Linked DNA regions of Homo sapiens: region 2 is linked to region 1. The links come from fine-mapping of genetic effects on gene expression. Tissue or cell type: aorta. Region 1 holds a variant in brackets; the other region holds the start of a gene. All regions are shown on one strand. Distances are between the middles of the regions. Region 1 overlaps MALRD1 (MAM and LDL receptor class A domain containing 1). Region 2 holds the start of MALRD1-AS1 (MALRD1 antisense RNA 1).

Region 1 (9,186 bases):
TGCCCCTGCACACCTGTGGGTGTTTCTCGTCAGGTGGAAGGAGACACTTGAGAAAAGAAAGAGACACAGAGACAAAGTATAGAGAAAGAAAAGTGGGCCCAGGGGACCGGCGCTCAGCATACAGAGGATCCGCTCCAGCACCAGTCTCTGAGTTCCCTCAGTATTTATTGATCATTATCTCTACCATCTTGGAGAGGGGGATGTGGCAGGACAATAGGGTAATAGTGGAGAGAGGGTCAGCAGGAAAACGTGAACAAATGTCTCTGCATCATAAACAAGGTAAAGGAAAAGGTGCTGTGCTTTTGATGTGCACGTACGTAAACATCTCAATGCCTTAAAGAGCCAGCATGTCTCACCTCCAGCCCTAAGGCAGTTTTCTGCTATCTCAGTAGATGGAATATACAATCGAGTTTTACACTGAGACATTCCATTGCCAAGGGAGGAGCAGGAGACAGATGCCTTCCTCTTACCTCAACTGCAAAGAGGCTTTCCTCTTTTACTAATCCTCCTCAGCACAGACCCTTTACAGGTGTCGGGCTGGGGGATGGTCAGGTCTTTCCCTTCCCACAAGGCCATATTTCAGACTATCACATGGGGAGAAACCTTGGACAATACCTGGCTTTCCTAGGCAGAGTTCCCTGCAGCCTTCCGCAGTGTTTTATGTCCCTGGGTACTTGAGAGTAGGGAGTGGTGATGACTTTTAACAAGCATGCTGCCTTCAAGCATTTGTTTAACAAAGCACATCCTGCATAGCCCTAAATCCATTAAACCTTGAGTCGACACAGCACATGTTTCTGCGAGCACAGGGTTGAGGGTAGGGTTACAGATTAACAGCATCTCAAGGCAGAAGAATTTTTCTTAGTACAGAACAAAATGGAGTCTCTTATGTCTACTTCTTTCTACATAGACACAGTAACAGTCTGATCTCTCTTTCTTTTCCCCATATTGTTTACTCCATAGCAGGAGCCCTAAGAATCATATGAATTAAAATCAAATAAATCAAAAAATAAACCAGAAGTGGAATCTACTTGTTTTAACCAAATAGCTTGTTTGCTGAATTCTTGCAGATTAGTTTCTATACCAGATGTATTTATCCGTGTGCAGCAAGAGGTGTTAGCTACTGTAGACACTCCCCGCTGTTCAGCCAACAGGTAGTCCAAAACAATCTTGCTATCTAAAACAACCTTATCAAGAGAATTTAAAGAAATGTACTGGGCAGCCATAGCCTTTGCAATATAGTCAGCTATATCAGTTAGTATTTGAGACTGATTTCTAACCATAACTTTATTATATTTATGCCAAGCCAGGAAAGGAGTGTTCTACCCAAAGATGCTCATTTACAGCTAGAAAAAATCTTATTTATTTTACATTGAAAATTGAATTGTATAGATCAATGATCAGTTTCCAGTTGATTATGGAGTGAGTGGTGCCGTTAAAATGCCTAACCCACATTGGCCTCTTTTTGAGACATGGAGTCAAAAAGATCAGCACACGGCTGATCTTTAAATTCTCTACAAATAAAAATATATCTTCAAGAGCCACAACAGACAGTTCCCTTTAAGATGTCTTGTGATTTAAGGGTCACTAGTAGGAAAGCACTAAAATTTATCCAAGGCTTTATTATCAAATCATAGCATGGTTAGAGCCCATCAACAATTAGGGTTATATATTTGTCTACAAAATGCCAAACTATTTTTTGTTGTTCTTATTCAATTTCTGGCATAATTAACTGCAAAACCCTCATTATATGTTTTGCCTACTGTTAGCTTTAAACAAGGAATATGAATATGTGAATCTAAAAGTCTAACCCTATAGAAGAATCAAACCTGCAATATGAGAAAATGGTCACATTTGGAATATCAGTAACTTTTGTTTCAGGGTGAACTAGAGGATCTCTAAGATCATGTAGGGATATTGGTTTAACATGACATAGTCAACATTCAGTTAGGTTTTCTGCAGAAGTTATCAACTATGAAATCTTGATTTTGGCATTATCTCACCATTTGTAAACAGAAAAGAAACACAGAGAAAAAATAAAAAAGACAAAGTTTTCATAATGAGAGAGGGGAGAAGTTTTGATCCTTGTTTTGGGGAAAGTTGGCCACATCTAGGATGTCATCTTCTTCTGAAGAGAAATCTCCTTGGTCAGTTTTGCCTTGAGGTCTCCAAAAGATGTGCAGTCTTGGAGGAGTCCTCTTGAGTTGAGAGATAGGGAGCCAAGACTGAAGGTTATAAAGTTTTGCTGCAGTATGATTGCTTAAAAGAGCTTGGTATCATTCTCTCCAGTGGGGCTCAGGGGCAGTCTTTCTCTAGTGTCACTTCCAAAAGAGCCATTCTGTGCCCTAGATCATGAAAAATGTGGTTATCATCAGTTGGTGGGTAACAAAGGGCTTTTTTTACATGGTAAACATATACTCTGGCATAATACATTAAAGCTTGGCAATATTTCATCATTTATAAGAACAGGAGATACAGGCAGCTCTATTGTTATGGGCAAAGGCCTCAGTGACTATTTGATAAGATTTCATAATTGGTGCTTTCCAGGGAGAATAGATATTATTGCCATCAAGGACAGCAGTAATACATTTGCCCAAGGCAATCCAGTCTATTCAGTTAGTTTTGCATAATGCCATTGTGTTTGTAATATCTTATTTAACTGTTTGATGATTTGCCCAGTGAAATGAGTGCCTCCATCACTGGAAATTTCTTCAAGAATACCCCATAAAAGAAAAACATTTATAATAACCTCTTAGTTACTGTCATAGCATTGGCTTTCCTATACAGGAAAGCTTCTGTCTAACCAGGAAACATACAAACTACAAGAACACATTGATATCCCATTGAAGGTGGCAATTGAGTTAAATCCATTTGTAAAATTTTAAATGATTTATAGGTAGAAATGCAGCGCCTAAAGACTTGGTTGTCTTCCCAGAATTATGGATTTGACAAACCAAAAAATGCTTACAAACCATTTTAGCAATTTTAGACTAGTCACTCCAAGATTTTTTTTTCATAATTTAAGTCATTTTGAAATTTCCATAATGATTCATGGAGTGCATAGTTTTAAATAATGGAAGATTTAAGGACTCAGGAAGGACGAAGTGGTCATCTGGGTCCTCCATGGGTGTACAATTAACATCGAATTTACTTAATTTTAAATAACACATTTGTTTCTTCATTTCAGGTGTGTAGCACTGTTTATTAAATAGGTTGTCATAGATAATTTGAGTTGGGTCAATCTTACTGTGTTCACTTAAATTGCATATATGATATGGTTTGTATATTTGTCCCCTCCAAATCTCATGTTAAAAGGTAATCCCCAGTGTTGGAGATGGGACCTAGTGAGAGGTGCTTGGGTCATGAGGATGGATTCCTCATGAACGGCATGGTGCTCCATCTCTGGTAATGAGTCCACATGAGAACTCATTGTTAAAATGTGTGTAGACCTCCCCCTTCACTCTCTTGCTTCCTTTCTCACTACGTGATCTAACAGGTTCCCTTTTTCCTTCTTTCATGACCATAAGCTTCCTGAGGCCTCACCAGAAGCCAAGCAGATACTGGTGCCATGCTTATACAGCTTGCAGAACCATGAGCCAAATAAATCTCTTTTTTTTTTTTTTTTGAAAATTATCCAACCTGGCCGGGCGTGGTGGCTCACGCCTGTAATCTCAGCACTTTGGGAGGCCGAGGCGGGCGGATCACGAGGTCAGGAGATTGAGACCATCCTGGCTAACACAGGGAAACCCCGTCTCTACTAAAAATACAAAAAATTAGCCAGGCGTGGTAGCGGGTGCCTGTAGCCCCAGCTACTCGGGAGGCTGAGGCAGGAGAATGGTGTGAACCCGGGAGGCGGCGGTTGCAGTGAGCTGAGATTGGGCCACTGTACTCCAACCTGGGTGAAAGAGCAAGACTCCATCTCAAAAGAAAAGAAAAAAAAAATTATCCAACCTAAGGTACTCCTTTATAGCAATGCAGAATTAACTAACACAGTATCTTAACAATTTCAGTATTGGCTGACTTAACCACGAGAATCTGCAACAGCATTTTCTTGGCATTCAATTAATTAATTCTTGTTCTACTAGATATTGGGTTAGCAATTTAGGTGCCAATCAGTTTCTTCATTAAAATTCTGAGAATTCTTACCTAGTCAAATGATGGGATCTTAAAGTTACCAGAAACCTGTACTTGTTAGAGTCCTTTCCGTGAATCCCCTGAAAGATAAAATATTTTAGGCTTACAGCTGTTTGTAATAGCTTTCAGGAACCTAACAGAATAAAACAATGAACTATCTACAGATGACAAGACTTAAAATGGCCATGGCTTAAAGATCTTATTACAGTTTATTATAGTGCAACTGGCAAGAAAATTTTGTTTTTGCAACATAAAATAATTTAAGGTAATAACTAGAATTATGACTGACAGCATTATACTACAACCATCAGTTTCCTTGGAATTTTATATAATTTCTCAAACACATATTAATAACATATCATACAATATAATTGAAATAAGGTTTAGTATCACTTATTATTTGACAATGTTTCCCATGCCATTTAACATGTTAGATAAGCCTAATTAGTTTTACACCTCTCTTTTAATCAAGAGAAAGAAAAAAATTCTTTTGAGATATTTCTATGGCCTGTAGGAAAACTCCCTAAGTTAGTTCAACGTCAAAAGATCCTAATTTAGACTTTGATTTTGGGAAGTCTTGAAAAATAAGAGGTTTTGAATACTTGATTAAAATAGGATTACAGGGCAATGTGAAACAATGCTTACTCATTTAACTAGAGTGATAATTAAAATATTTAAAGACAAATACAGAAAGGTACATAGTTATAGGAAAGAAAAACCTTAGTTCATTTAATAAACAGAACTCACTTTTCTTAAGAAATGAAAGATCCCATACAGACTGCATGAAGTGTAGGAAATTATCTTGATAAAACACAGAATATTTGTTTCCTAGGTCAATTATCTAAAAGGAAAGCCTTTTACAATTTTCTACTAAAGGCAGACCAATACTCCAAGAAAACCTTGTTGTTTTAACATAGAGGATCAAATTCTTGTTTTGTATCAGTGTACTTTT[G/C]ATATAAATGCTTATTTTTTTGGAAGACTTAAAAATAATTCCCTTCTAATTGCAGCCAGTTTGATCACACATAAAATATCTGTCCATTCCATCTACAATACCCTTATGTCCATTCAGTGTTTGTTTTATACTTTTTTCTTTTTCCCATTTTGAAACAGCCATTTCTTATGCTTTAGGACAAAAAAAAAAATCTTTTTTACTTAACAAACAACAAAAACACAACTTTATACTTTATAGCTTTTCTTACCAAAAGCATAGCTTACCATCTTTATATACTTGGATTTAGAATGGTTTTTCTAATTATTTCTAGTAATTTTAGTTACATGTATGAATTCAAATAATGAACTCTTAGTGACCTTAATTTACAGGGAACACTAGGAAGCAAACAACTGAGCTATATCACACCAGCTTCCTGTAGATTGGCAAATCTATGAATCATAATTTCTAGAAATATGTACTTTTTCATAGTACACTTTTTTTGGTATGACACAGAACATGTGTACTAACAGTTTAAACCATCTTTAGTCCTGTAATGAGAAACTGTAGAAGAGGCAAAATTTTATCTCTGTCCTTTCAAGGTTTTCTTTTAGTAGGTCACTTTAACTTGTTGTTTGTACAGATTTCCCGTAGCCTCAACTTTCTCTTTTTTTTAATTTTTATTTATTTATTTTTTTTGAGACAGAGTCTCGCTCTGTTGCCCAGGCTGGAGCACAGTGGCCCGATCTTAGCTCACTGCAAGCTCTGCCTCCCGGGTTCACGCCATTCTCCTGCCTCAGCCTCCCGAGTAGCTGGGACTACAGGCACCCGCTACAACGCCTGGCTAATTTTTTTTCTTTTTTGTATTTTTAGTAGAGATGGGGTTTCACCATGTTAGCCAGGATGGTCTCAATCTCTTGACCTCGTGATCTGCCTGCCTTGGCCTCCCAAAGAGCTCGGATTACAGGCGTGAGCCACCGTGCATGGCCAACTTTCTCTTCTTGCTGATAAGAACGTTAGAACCAGCTAGTATAAGGACATCATTCACATGGGAATTTTAGATTACTTACACCTATTTAATTCACTTGTTTTTATGATTATGCTTGGATTACTTATGAAGATGAGACGTTAAACAACTAGCTATCGTCTTAAGTTATTTTCATTGCTGACAAATTTTTTAATATAGAGATAACATAAGCTTGTTTTACTAATAAACCTAGGTAGAAAAAGTTGTGCATCTGAATTATGTCTAATGTTGAGAAATCTGGAGATGTACCTGCTTTAATCAAACTCACACACTTTAATTAGCTTTTATTTACCAAAGACTATCCCAGATCATGTAAATTTGAAAATAATTTGTGTTAGTTTCTATCTTAGAGTTTAAGGAATATCTAATTTATGCAAGTGCTCATTTTTTTCAGCCAATGTAAGAGAACTCTTTTACAATTTAATTTTGGCAATCCTGTAAGCTGGTAGAAAAATACCACACATACATAACATATAGACAATTAGACAAAAATATATACAGAGAAACATTTCTTATAGCTTTTATTTGAAAATTTAAACCGTGTTTCAAGTACAATAATATGAAACTCACTAATTTATTAAAGATTTAGAGTCAAATTCTTTTTCTTGTCCGTGGAACAAGATTGCTTTCCTAGATGACTAAATATTCTACTAATATTTGTGGGGAAACTTTTAAGATTTTTTCATTTGTTCAATTTTCAAATATCTTCTCCTCCTCCTGCTCCTCCTCTTCCTCCTCCTCCTCTTCCTCTTCCTACTCTTCTTCCTCCTCCTCATCTCCTCCCTCCCTTCCTCCCTCCCTCCCTTGCTTACCTCCCTCCCTCCCTCTTCCTTCTTCCTTGTTCTTTCTCTTCCCCTTCACCTTCTTCTCCTCCCTCTTCTCCTCCTTCTCCTTCATCATTATCATTTTCTCTATACTTGCATTTTAAAATGATATCTATGAGGTCCTACAGAAGACAGTGTTAAATTTTTACATCTTAAAGTCACAGAGCTTAAACTTTAGGCTTAAATACTGTAGTCTGCCTAAACCAAGAAAGAACGGCATAGCTAAAAGCCCAGTTAAGACAAGATGGCCATGACAAGCACTTAAAACAAAAGTAAGGCTTTTCATGTCATCAGGGGTTTGAGACGAGGGGTTTTAGTTGACCGAGTAATTCCTCTGGTTGAAGCAGGATTGAATAGGAAAAACAGAACTAATTCTAACAAACGTTTTTCTGAAAATGATCCTAATATCAATTGGATAGATTAAGACTGTAGACTTTTGGGGGCTTGACTTGAAATTCCCACCCTGGAAATATGCTTTTTTATCTGAGGGACTGGTTGGTTATTGTCCTGGGAGTCAAGCCCTTAAGTACTTTCTCCAGTAGGGAAACATTCCAGGCCAATGTGAGTGCATTCATCAGATGGCTGGTGAAAACATGGGCAATTTCTTTTCCAATAGCCTGGCTGTTTACAATAAAGGCAAAAATCTCAGGGCACGAGGTTCTAGTTTGAAATCTCTCAGTTTGGGTTTTAAAATACACACAAGGAGGACCTGTTAGTCCCATAGATACAAAGACATGCATCATGCCTTTTCTAAAGAGTTTTCTCGCTGTAGCCAATGTAACTCTAAGTCACCTTTGATAAAGTTCACCCATTTCTGTAGAAAAACACAGATTCTAGGTCCATAGTTCTTATATATGAAATCAGCTGGTGTTCCAGATGGGGGAGTTCTAGATACCTTGGTTACAGATGACCTACAATTTTATGTAGTAACCTTACCTATTGGATCCAGTCCAGTTTTGTTATGAAGTTCAGTATGAGCCTGGGCACAGTCATATCCAGTAATTGTTCGAATAAAATCAGGAAGCTCAAAACACAAATTTGAGGAGCTCAAATTTAAGAGAGAACTCACCCACAGCCTTCACTTGTTGCAAGAGAGCAATGGACTTAATGCTTGGTCACTTGGTGCTTCTGAGGGTCATGGGAGGTTTCCTCCACATCCCACTTCTGACACCAAACTGTTAATTCAGACAAATTAAATTTAGCAGAGTTTATTTTTGCAGATATGACTTATAAATCAGGTAGCACTCAGAACCAGAAAAGGTTCAGAGAGCTCTGCCTGAGTTTGAGCAAGTTTTTATGAGCCAAACACAGAAGCACTTTAGGGAATCCCCTGATTGGCTATACTGCTAGGCATCTGCCTTATTTCGGAATATTGTCATTAGTTGCCTGCCTGTGACTGGCTGAAACACAGCTGCTTATGATTAGCTGAAGCTCTGTTGTTTGTTATACTCCTAAGTTTTATTATAGTTTGTGTACATACTAAGTTAGGTTGTAGTTTGTTTTGCAGAAACTCAAAGAGACAACCTCAGACTAATGGCCTCCTGCTAATTTAATTTAACAACATTAACATGGCAATCTGAATATATCAGCAATTTCAGTGTCCATAAATAACTGTCTTCTGAATTATTGTGCAGATATTATCATTTCTGTTTTATAATTTCCATAGAGAAAAACCAATGACATTCTTAATTTTATATTTTCTTTATCTTTTATGATTTTCTTTTTCTTATATAATGTCAAAGTTGATATTTTATTATTTTTTGAAATTACAGAGTCTCTACTGACCTGTGAGATAGTATTTATGATAGTGTGATAACATCTCTATAATGACATACGTTGCCTTCATAATTCACTCTACAAAATCATCCAGATCTCTATTTCCAAATTTTGTATTAATTGTTACAGGCTTTGCATTTTCAGGTAATGGTGTGAACATTTTTTTTTTTCATAAATACTAAAATACAATTATCTTTGTCAGCAGAAAGGTACTTTTCTTAATAAAATGTTTAGTTGTTTCACTAACAGTCATGTTCTGAAACTTCCTAAATAGAACAAACTTTGGCTTACTACATAATTGGTTTCAATTTTAGTGGCAATTGCCATTCATGAATCACTCACAACCACAGTGAAAATTATGACCATCAGCACTGCCAGTGCAACACTAGTCATAAAGTTGATTTGCTTTAGATGTTTTGCTTTTACAATGAATTAGACAGCATTATCCCTATAATGCTGTTTGGTGTATGTAATGCAGGATCTCACTTTTTAATGATATA
Region 2 (9,186 bases), 210 kb after region 1:
ATACTATATATAAGCAATCTCAAAGAATCCACAAGAAAGCTACTAGAGCAAATAAACAAATTCAGAGAAGTTACAAGGTATAAGAGCAACACTTAAAAATCAGTTGTATTACTACATACCAGCAATGAACAATCAGAAAAGGAATCTTGAAGGCAATTCTGTTGACAATAGCATCTAAAAGAATAAAATACCTGGGAATAAATTTAACCAATGAGGTGAAAGATTTATACACTTAAAATCACAAAGCATTATTGAAAGAAATTAAATAAGACCTAACTAAATGGAATGACACACTAAGTTCATGGAAAGGAGGACAATATTGTCGAGACGTTAATACTAACTAAAGCAACTCATATGGTTTGGCTCCATGTCCCCACCCAAATCTCATCTTGAATTCTAGTTTCCATAATCCCCACAAGCCGTGGGAGGGACCTAGTGGGAGGTAATCTAAGCATGGGGGTGGTTACCCTCATGCTGCTATTCTCAGGATAGTGAGTAAGTTCTCACAAGGTCTGATGGCTTTAGACGGGGCTTTTCCGGCTTTTGCTCTGCACTTCTGGCTGCCACTGTGTGAAGAAGGGCATATTTGCTTCCCCTTCTGCCATGATTGTAAGTTACCTGAGGCCTCCCCAGGCCTGTGGAACTGTGAGTCAATTAAACCTCTTTCCTTTATAAATTACCCAGGCTCAGGTATTTCTTCACAGCAGCATGAGAACAGACTAATACAGCAACCTGCAGATTCAAGGCAATCTCTATCGAAAATTCCAACAGCCATTTTTGCAAAAGTGAAAAACCTCTTCTCAAATTTATAAATTGCAAGGGTACCAAATAGCCAAAACAATGTTGGAGAACTCAAACTTCCAAATTTCAGAATTTACTACAAAAGTACAGTAAACAAAACAGTGTGGTATCGGCATGAGGCATGAGAACAGACATATAGATCAATTGAATTGAACTGAATTGAAAATTCAAATATAATCCTATACATCTGTCATGAATTGATGCTTGACAACAATGCCAAGTCCATCCAATGGGGATCAAATAGTCTCTTCAGTAGATGATATTGGGACAACTGGATTTTGCAATGCAAAAGAATGCAGATGGACCCCCTACTTCACACCACATACAGAAATTAGCTCAAAATGGATCAAGGAGCTACATGTAAGAGCAAAAGCCATAATGCATTTAAAAGAAAACATAGTGGTAAATCTTCATGATCTTGGATTTGGAAATTGATTCTTTCTTAAATATGACACCAAAAGCACAAGCAACAACAAAAAATAAATAAGTAAATTGGACTTTATCAAAATCAAAAACTTTTGTGCAACAAAAGACATTATCAAGAAAGTGAAAAGACAATCTACAAAATGGTAGAAAATATTCAAAAGTACGTATCTGATAAAAGTTTAATATCCAGAATATATAAAAATCCATACAACTTAAGAACAAAAAGACAACCCAATTTCAAAATGGGCAAAGGACTAGAATAGTCATTTCTTCAAAGAAGATTACATATAGTTGAACATAAAAAGATGTTCAACATCACTAGTCATTAGGGAAATGAAAATCAGTACCACAATTACATACCAATTCACATCCACTGAGATAGCAATAATAATAATAATTTAAAAACTGAAAATAACAAGTGTTGATGAGGATGAGGAGAAATAGAAACCCTCACACATTGTTGGTGGGAATGTAAGATGGTGCAGCACTATCAAAAACAGTTTGGCAGTTCCTCAAAAGTTAAAAAAGAGTTACCGTGTGTTCTATCAATTCAACTCCTAGTTATATACCTCGAAGAATCAAAATAGAGACTTAAACAGATATTCATGCAGCAATGTTCCCCATAGCAGTATTCACAATAGTGAAAAGATGGAAACTACCCAAATTTCCATCAACAGGTGAATGAATAAACAAAATGTGACATATACATGCAAGGGAATATTATTCAGCAATAAAAATGATTAAACTTCTGATACATACTACAATATGGATGAATCTTGAAAACATTATGCTAAGTGAAATAAGCCAAACACAAAAGGACAAATACTGTATGATTCCACTTAGGTGAGGTACCTCGAGTCTCATAAAGACAGAAGGTAAATCAGAATTTACCTGGGATTGGTTGGAGGGGAATGGGGTGTTAATGCTCACTGGCCATGGAGCTTCAGTTCAGAGTTATAAAAACATTTTGGAAATAGTGGTAATGGTAGCACAACACTGTGAGTGGAATTAATGGCATTGAATTGTATACTTGAAATGGTTAAAATGGCAAATTTTATGTGATATATACCACTGTTTTAAAAATTAAAAATTAATAAAAGTAACATTACTGAAAACCATTGAATTGTGTACTTTAAGTTTGTGAATTGTATGGCATGTGATTTATAGCTCCATAAAGCTGTTAAAAATAAAAATACAAAATATTCACCTCGAAGTCATGTTTACTGGATGTAACATAGATTGGTTTTTGTTTTATTCTTTTTTTCTCCTTTCCCATTTGTAATAGTTTCAGACTATTATAAACACTTCCATGCTTTTATCAACACTAAAACAATGTTGTCAGTTAATAAGTGAATTCCATTAGAAGTATAAATATGCTCGCTAAATTAAAATTGGAAACTGCCATCAGAATTATCTTAGTTCTGCATTGATCTAGGTCTCTTGTCACACATTCAGAATGCCACTTCGCACAGTATCTGCACGTAATGGATATAAGATAAACTTAATAATAATTTATATGAATGCATGATAAGGGAGAAAAACTTATATGATCCATGCAACTTCCTTTCCTCTACTCAAAATTTCTAAGTCAGTTCCTTTATCATCATTATTCCTAGAGGTGGTTATATTCTTTAGAACCTCAATTCTTACAACTCACTTATTCATTGGGGGAAAAAAAATCAACTGCTTAAGAGCTACCGGCATATTGACAAATACAGTAAGTCAAACATTGCATTTTTTTTTTTTTGGCCTGATGAAGACTCATCATTACACCATTGAGTTTCAGAACTGGCAGGAAACTTTATAATGAAACAAACATTTTATTTCCCTCATGTAAGGATCCACCATTTTAAGTAAAATTGCCTGTGTTTGAATGTCAAATTGACATAGTTGATGAAAATGGAAAATCATAATATTGAACTTGAAATACTAAATGTATAGAGTGACACTAGCAATTTCCTTCATGGAAGAATCTGTGGACGGTGTAATAGTTTACCTTATAAATAAATAGGAAAGACATTAAAATTTAAGTCTAATAGTCCAGGGATTTTCAAGAATGGGAGATATATCTTTAATCTAGGAAAAATAAAAGCAATTTGAGACTACTAAAAAACAAAAGTTGAAGTAGGAAGGATTTGCCATTCCTCACCTTCCAATACTCACACTGAAACCCTTTCTTCTTTTATTACAACTCCACATCCTTACTCTTAAATATCATCTTCCTTCTTTGTAGTTACCCAAATCTTGAAGGCCAGACACCTTCAAATGTTTTTTCATTTTAATAGAAAATTATTTCAGACTTAAAACCCTTTCAGAAGACAAGTAGCTTCAATAATTGAATTAACAGAGCTGAGAATTATATAAATTTACCTGGCTTCTGCCTGCTGACCGTGGTCTGGGTCATCTGGAGTCCCAGCAGTTTAAGACCAAAAATAATTGCTTCATATCAAGATCTTTTGTGTTGCTTCTGCCTCACACCCTTGCAACTGACGGCCAAGCTGGTCCCTTCAGCTCCTGGTTGTATGCTCAGGCTTTGACCATCTGTCCTGTCTAGCCCTGTGGTTTGGGTTTCCTCCTGCTTCCTGATTTCATGCCTGATTTCAGCCTCTTAATTTTTCTGAGCTCTTGGTGTCAGTGTCTGTCTTATCTTTACTTAGTTCCTAATTTCTATTATGTTTTGATCATCCCTACTTCCATGTCCAATTTTTCCTGCTTTGGTATTTTGATGCATTTCAAAACTACACTTCACTCCCTACCCAATCTCAACTCCAAGATCATCCCTGGCTCAGTTCATGCACTAACCATGCTATGTACTGAGATTACTACTCCGAGAATTTAACATAGACTAGTCTTGAATAAAGTAAAGGCAAAGAGTCAAACACAACTTACTCAAATTAATCAGAGCAACTAATAAGCATTCAATTAGTGCTTAAGGAATTAACAGATATTTGTTGACTCAATTCAGACTTTTTTCAATAATAACCCACAAAATAGATGCATATGGCCCTATTCATCAATAAGCAAAATGTACCCGCGGTGAGGGTGAAACATTTAATCTATTGTATATTTAAGCCAGTGGAGATCAGGAAGCTTAAAAGACACTGAATCCACAGGGACAATGTATTGCCAGCCAAACATAATTAGCTAGATTAGACTGTTAGGCTCACTGATGCTGCAGTTTCTTTGAAAAGGACCATGTGGTTTGGTAGATGACAATAGGCAGTTATGCCTATGGCAATTTGTTTTCAGAAATCAAATCAGTAAGAGCCCCCTTCTTGCTACATTTTATTTTGGGATTTAGAATTATATTACTGACAAACATTAATTTTCACTGTATCCTGAATAGGCAAAAAATATACATTATACATACATTATACATTGTGTTATACAATTATCATACATTATATATTTGTTACTCGTGTCATTAAGCTCTTAAAACAATCATCCTGGAATTGGTCTTCCATTCTCCATTGTGTGTGTGTGTGTGTGTACACATGCATGTATAGGATCCTTTCTTATGTGTGTGTGTGTGTACACATGTGTGTATAGGATCCTTTCGTGTGTGTGTGTGTGTGTGTGTATTTAGTTCTTGGTTACTTTTTTTTGTTCCTACGATGGACATTTTTTCTTCATCAGTTGTCACCAAGTAGTCCAGGGCTGCGTGTCTTCTAATAAGTCTATTAATTCTTTTTTTTTTTTTTTTTTTTTTTTTTTTTTTTTGAGACGGAGTCTCGCTCTGTGGCCCAGGCTGGAGTGCAGTGGCGCGATCTCGGCTCACTGCAAGCTCCGCCTCCCGGGTTCACGCCATTCTCCTGCCTCAGCCTCCCAAGTAGCTGGGACTACAGGCGCCCGCCACCACGCCCGGCTAATTTTTTTGTATTTTCAGTAGAGACGGGGTTTCACCGTGTTAGCCAGGATGGTCTCGATCTCCTGACCTCGTGATCCGCCCGCCTCGGCCTCCCGAAGTGCTGGGATTACAGGCGTGAGCCACCACGCCCGGCCTATAAGTCTATTAATTCTTAAGTAAAGTATAAAAGGAAAATAATCATATGGAGCCCAGTTAATTATAGTGAATTATGCACATGTAGTCCAATATGTGATATTACCAAGGGCTTGCTGTTTTTGAGTTTCATGAAACACTACCCTAAAGAACTTTTCAAAACAGTTGTATTTAAATTTGCTGATTAAAATGTTAAAGACTATGACTCATGTGCTACAGATCTTTATGACAGATACTGTCATGGAAAACAGTCTTCAGGATGTAGTGGTTTGGCACTGTGCAGTGTAAAGGACTTCAAGATGGCCTTTCTTTATCACTAGTACAGCTTCATATTACATTGTTCTTTCTAATGTTGGACACTTTGCACTGAGTAATATTTTAAGAAATCAACATTAAGACTAACTTTTGCAATTTCTTTTATTTGCCTGAGTTTATTTGGATCTAAACACTCAGAGTTCAAATTACATTTGCTTTCCTGAATGTGGTTGCCTTGGTGTCCTGCAAAAAATAAAAAATAAAAAACAAACTTTACTTATGGTAATACATTCATGAAAATAAGTGTGCTGGCTAGACAACATGTCTCTCAAAAGTTTCTAACAAACAATAACCTGAAAATGTACTATGGTAAATGTCAATAGTTTTTTATTTTTGATGGCCCTGTGTGCTTTAAGGAAAACCGAGGGAAGTGGTAACTGTGCCTTTGTCAATCCAGTTTACGGGAACTGGAGCAACCCAGAGAAAACAGAGGTAAGTGGCAAGGGTGAACTATATCTTTTCACACATATGCACACACATACAAACACACACACACACACAGGCTGAACCAGTGTTGCTTGATCATGTTTCTACATCATAACTAAAAGAAATGTTTTAGTGGAGTTATTTCAATTGGGGATAGAAAGGAGTTTCCATCTCTATAAATATGCTGTGAGAATTGTCCATTTCAGGACAGTTTCAGTCTGCTTGTAAGATCACTTCACTGTTAAATGGTGTTGTGGTCACTATTTATACTCAAAAAGAGCTGAAAAATCTGGGAAATATCAGTTTAACCCACAGAGTATTAGTCAGCTGCTTACAGTAACTATTCATTGAATGTCTTTCATATTTTATTTTCAAAAACAAAAGAGAGGATAGCATTCTATGTTCTGTTTAAATTTAGGGTGACTAGTGAGGGCCATTACCTGATAACTTAGAAGAGAAAAAACAAATGAGAATGTATTACATCTTCCTTGGCCCTTTTTGGGGCTACCCCTTATTTTTATAAGCAGGGAGAAAATGGCAAGGAAAACCTTTCTTGTTCCTTTTTTAGATTTTTTATATTTTAAGTCATTTTTAGGTATAGTTGACAAAACTTTTATATGTTTAAGGTATACATTATATTTTACTATAGGTATACATTGTGAAGTGATTACTACAATGAAACTATTTAAAATATCTATCACCTCACATAGTTTACTTTGTGTGTGTGTGTGTGTGTGTGTGTGTGCTGAAAACATTTAGGATCTCTCTTAGCAAATTTTGAGTATATCACACATTATTATAGTCACATGCTATACATTAGATCCCCAGAATTTATACATCCTGCACAAAAACTTTGCACTCTTTGATCAATATCTCATTCCTTTCTTTTTATTTTCCCATTCCTTTCTTAAGTAAGTGTTATGAGAATTCATCTGGATATAAAGTAAGTTTAGTTATGACACACCACTTCCGAACTGTAAAAGTTTTATTACATCTGAGTTTAGAGCTATATAAAATTCACTCCTTATAAAATGAGTATTATAGAAAGCTAAAGTTTTAATTATTCTCTTTCTTTATGAAAATAGGTCACAGTTTTTTATCTTGTTCCTGGTTATGAAAATGAGTAGCAAGGTATCAGGTCAGGTGGTTTCTGGTAGTTTAAGAGCCTTGAGTGCTGTGGCCGAAGCCTAACAAAGCACTTGACTTTTTAATTTTTGTGTTTTAATCAATAATGATATGATACACACTTTTAGTATTGTTTTGGTAGGAATGAAAACGGGAAGTAAATGATTTCCTAAAGCACAGAGAAAATGAATTTAGATGATTCGACAAGTAAATCAAGACAGAGTAAAAATGAAAAGGGAGACCTACTTCATGGATAAAAAAACACATACACATTTAAGAAAACAAATGTAATATATCTTTTTGACAAAATAGGATGGTGTAATATAAATATATTTTCATTTTTACTGGAGAAAGAAAATCTATTATTTATTTATTTTTTGAGACGGAGTTTCACTCTTGCCACCCAGGCTGGAGTGCAATGGTGTGATCTCGACTCACTGCAACCTCCACCTCCTGGGTTCAAGTGATTCTCCTGCCTCAGCCTCCTGAGTAGCTGGGATTAGAGGCGCCTGCCACCATGCCCAGCTAATTTTTGTATTTTTAGTAGAGACAGGGTTTCATCATGTTGGCCAGGCTGATCTCAAACTCCTGACCTTAGGTGATCCGCCTTCCTTGGCCTCCCAAAGTGCTGGCATTACAGGCGTGAGCCACTGTACCTGGCCAGAACATTTAATATTTTTTATCCTCAGCTTAGTTTAACTTTTAGTGTCTGAAAGGTACACATGAGATAAGGAATTAAAGTGAGATCTTTTCAATTTTATGTTTTTTGTATTAGTGCCTCATAAACTTGTAGTAACTAAAAAGTGGCTCGATAGGTATTATGGATTCTTTACTTTCTACTGAGATGGATTCTGTTGCATTCAGATTTGTACTTCTCAGCAAGTACAGGAAGGGGCCTCCATCAAAGACCCACCTTTCAACCTGCTTTCAAAATGGTTTCCACTGTGTGTGAGTGTGGTGGTGTAATGGATGACTTGAGAGCACCTCAGAAGTGATTTATGTTTATTTTCTATTTCGATAAAAGAAAAATTCCTTTTTCATTTTCTGTTTTCCTTTCATTATGAATGGCTAAAGAAGAAATCCTGGCACATCTCCTGACCTTTGTGGCTATTTTGATTTCTATTGTTTCAGAAACAAATGACTTTGTATTGATTAAACTAGGTCTACTTTCCCCATCATCAGAAAGATAGACTTCTCTAAGTCTATCTTTCAAACTATGTTTTAAATTATTGGAGAAAACTCTCACATTCTGATACAGAAATGGAGAGAATATTCATGGCAACATTCGTTGGCAATTCATGCCAATATTCATGGCAATATTCATTGTAAGCAACTGCCACGTGCCCATCAGCCAGCTTCAAGGACTGTCAACCCATGGTCATTGTTGTTTCACCTCTACTGCCCTCCATTTCCTCACCCTCCAGAAGGTTTTCAAACAAATTTCAAATATCATTTAATTTCAACTGTAAAGACTTCAGTTGTGTTTTTAAAGGACAAGGACTTTTAAAAATGTAACTGCAGGATCATCCCTAAACATTTAACAAGAATGTCTTGAGGCCATCAAACATTCAGTATTCATCCTACCCCAATTGTCTCATTAAAACCTAAAAGGTTTTCTTTTGGGGTTTTGTGTTGTTGCTATATTTTAAAAATCAGAAATTTTAGAAGGTATATGCATCCAAATGGGTAGATATGGCTCTTAAATCTCTTTTCATCTCTAGGTTCCATTCTGTCTTATTTTTTTTTCTTGCACATTATTTGTTGAAGAAACCAGATTGCTTGTCCTATAGAATTTCCCACGTTTTATATTATATATATATATAATATATATAATTATAGTTTACAGGAAACTTAAATGAAATGGCATTTAAACTTATATAAAATGCTTTTATTTACTTAAAGGCATTGGTTTTGTTTTGTTTTGTCTAACCTAACTATATTCAATACAGAAGGCTTAGTGAAACCAGCACCAGAGAAAGCAGTAGTCGAAATATTGGTCATTGCATTTCCCCACCCGACCAGAGGTGAGGCAGTGGTGCCTAAGTCCTGAGGACCCCAGGATACATGGAATCTAGGCTTGTGTCAGAAACTCA

Evidence for each region. PIP is the estimated chance that this variant, and not a neighbour inherited with it, causes the effect.
Region 2: MALRD1-AS1 starts here. The variant in region 1 is the best candidate, but not a certain one, in a credible set for the expression of MALRD1-AS1 in aorta (GTEx, PIP 0.62).

What each region holds. Positions count from the first base shown.
Region 1 is chr10:19,509,820-19,519,005 of GRCh38, forward strand. All of the region lies in intron 31 of MALRD1 (MAM and LDL receptor class A domain containing 1), which reads left to right. Among named protein-coding and RNA genes, the nearest start is that of MALRD1-AS1, 210 kb to the right of the region's middle. RefSeq lists an enhancer at 430-997. The variant G/C (reference allele first, on the strand shown) is at 5,084.
Region 2 is chr10:19,724,808-19,733,993 of GRCh38, forward strand. MALRD1-AS1 (MALRD1 antisense RNA 1) reads right to left here and starts at 3,743. Exons shown (of 5, transcript NR_120646.1): 1 at 3,598-3,743. It overlaps MALRD1 (MAM and LDL receptor class A domain containing 1), which reads left to right. Exons shown (of 40, transcript NM_001142308.3): 39 at 5,899-5,974.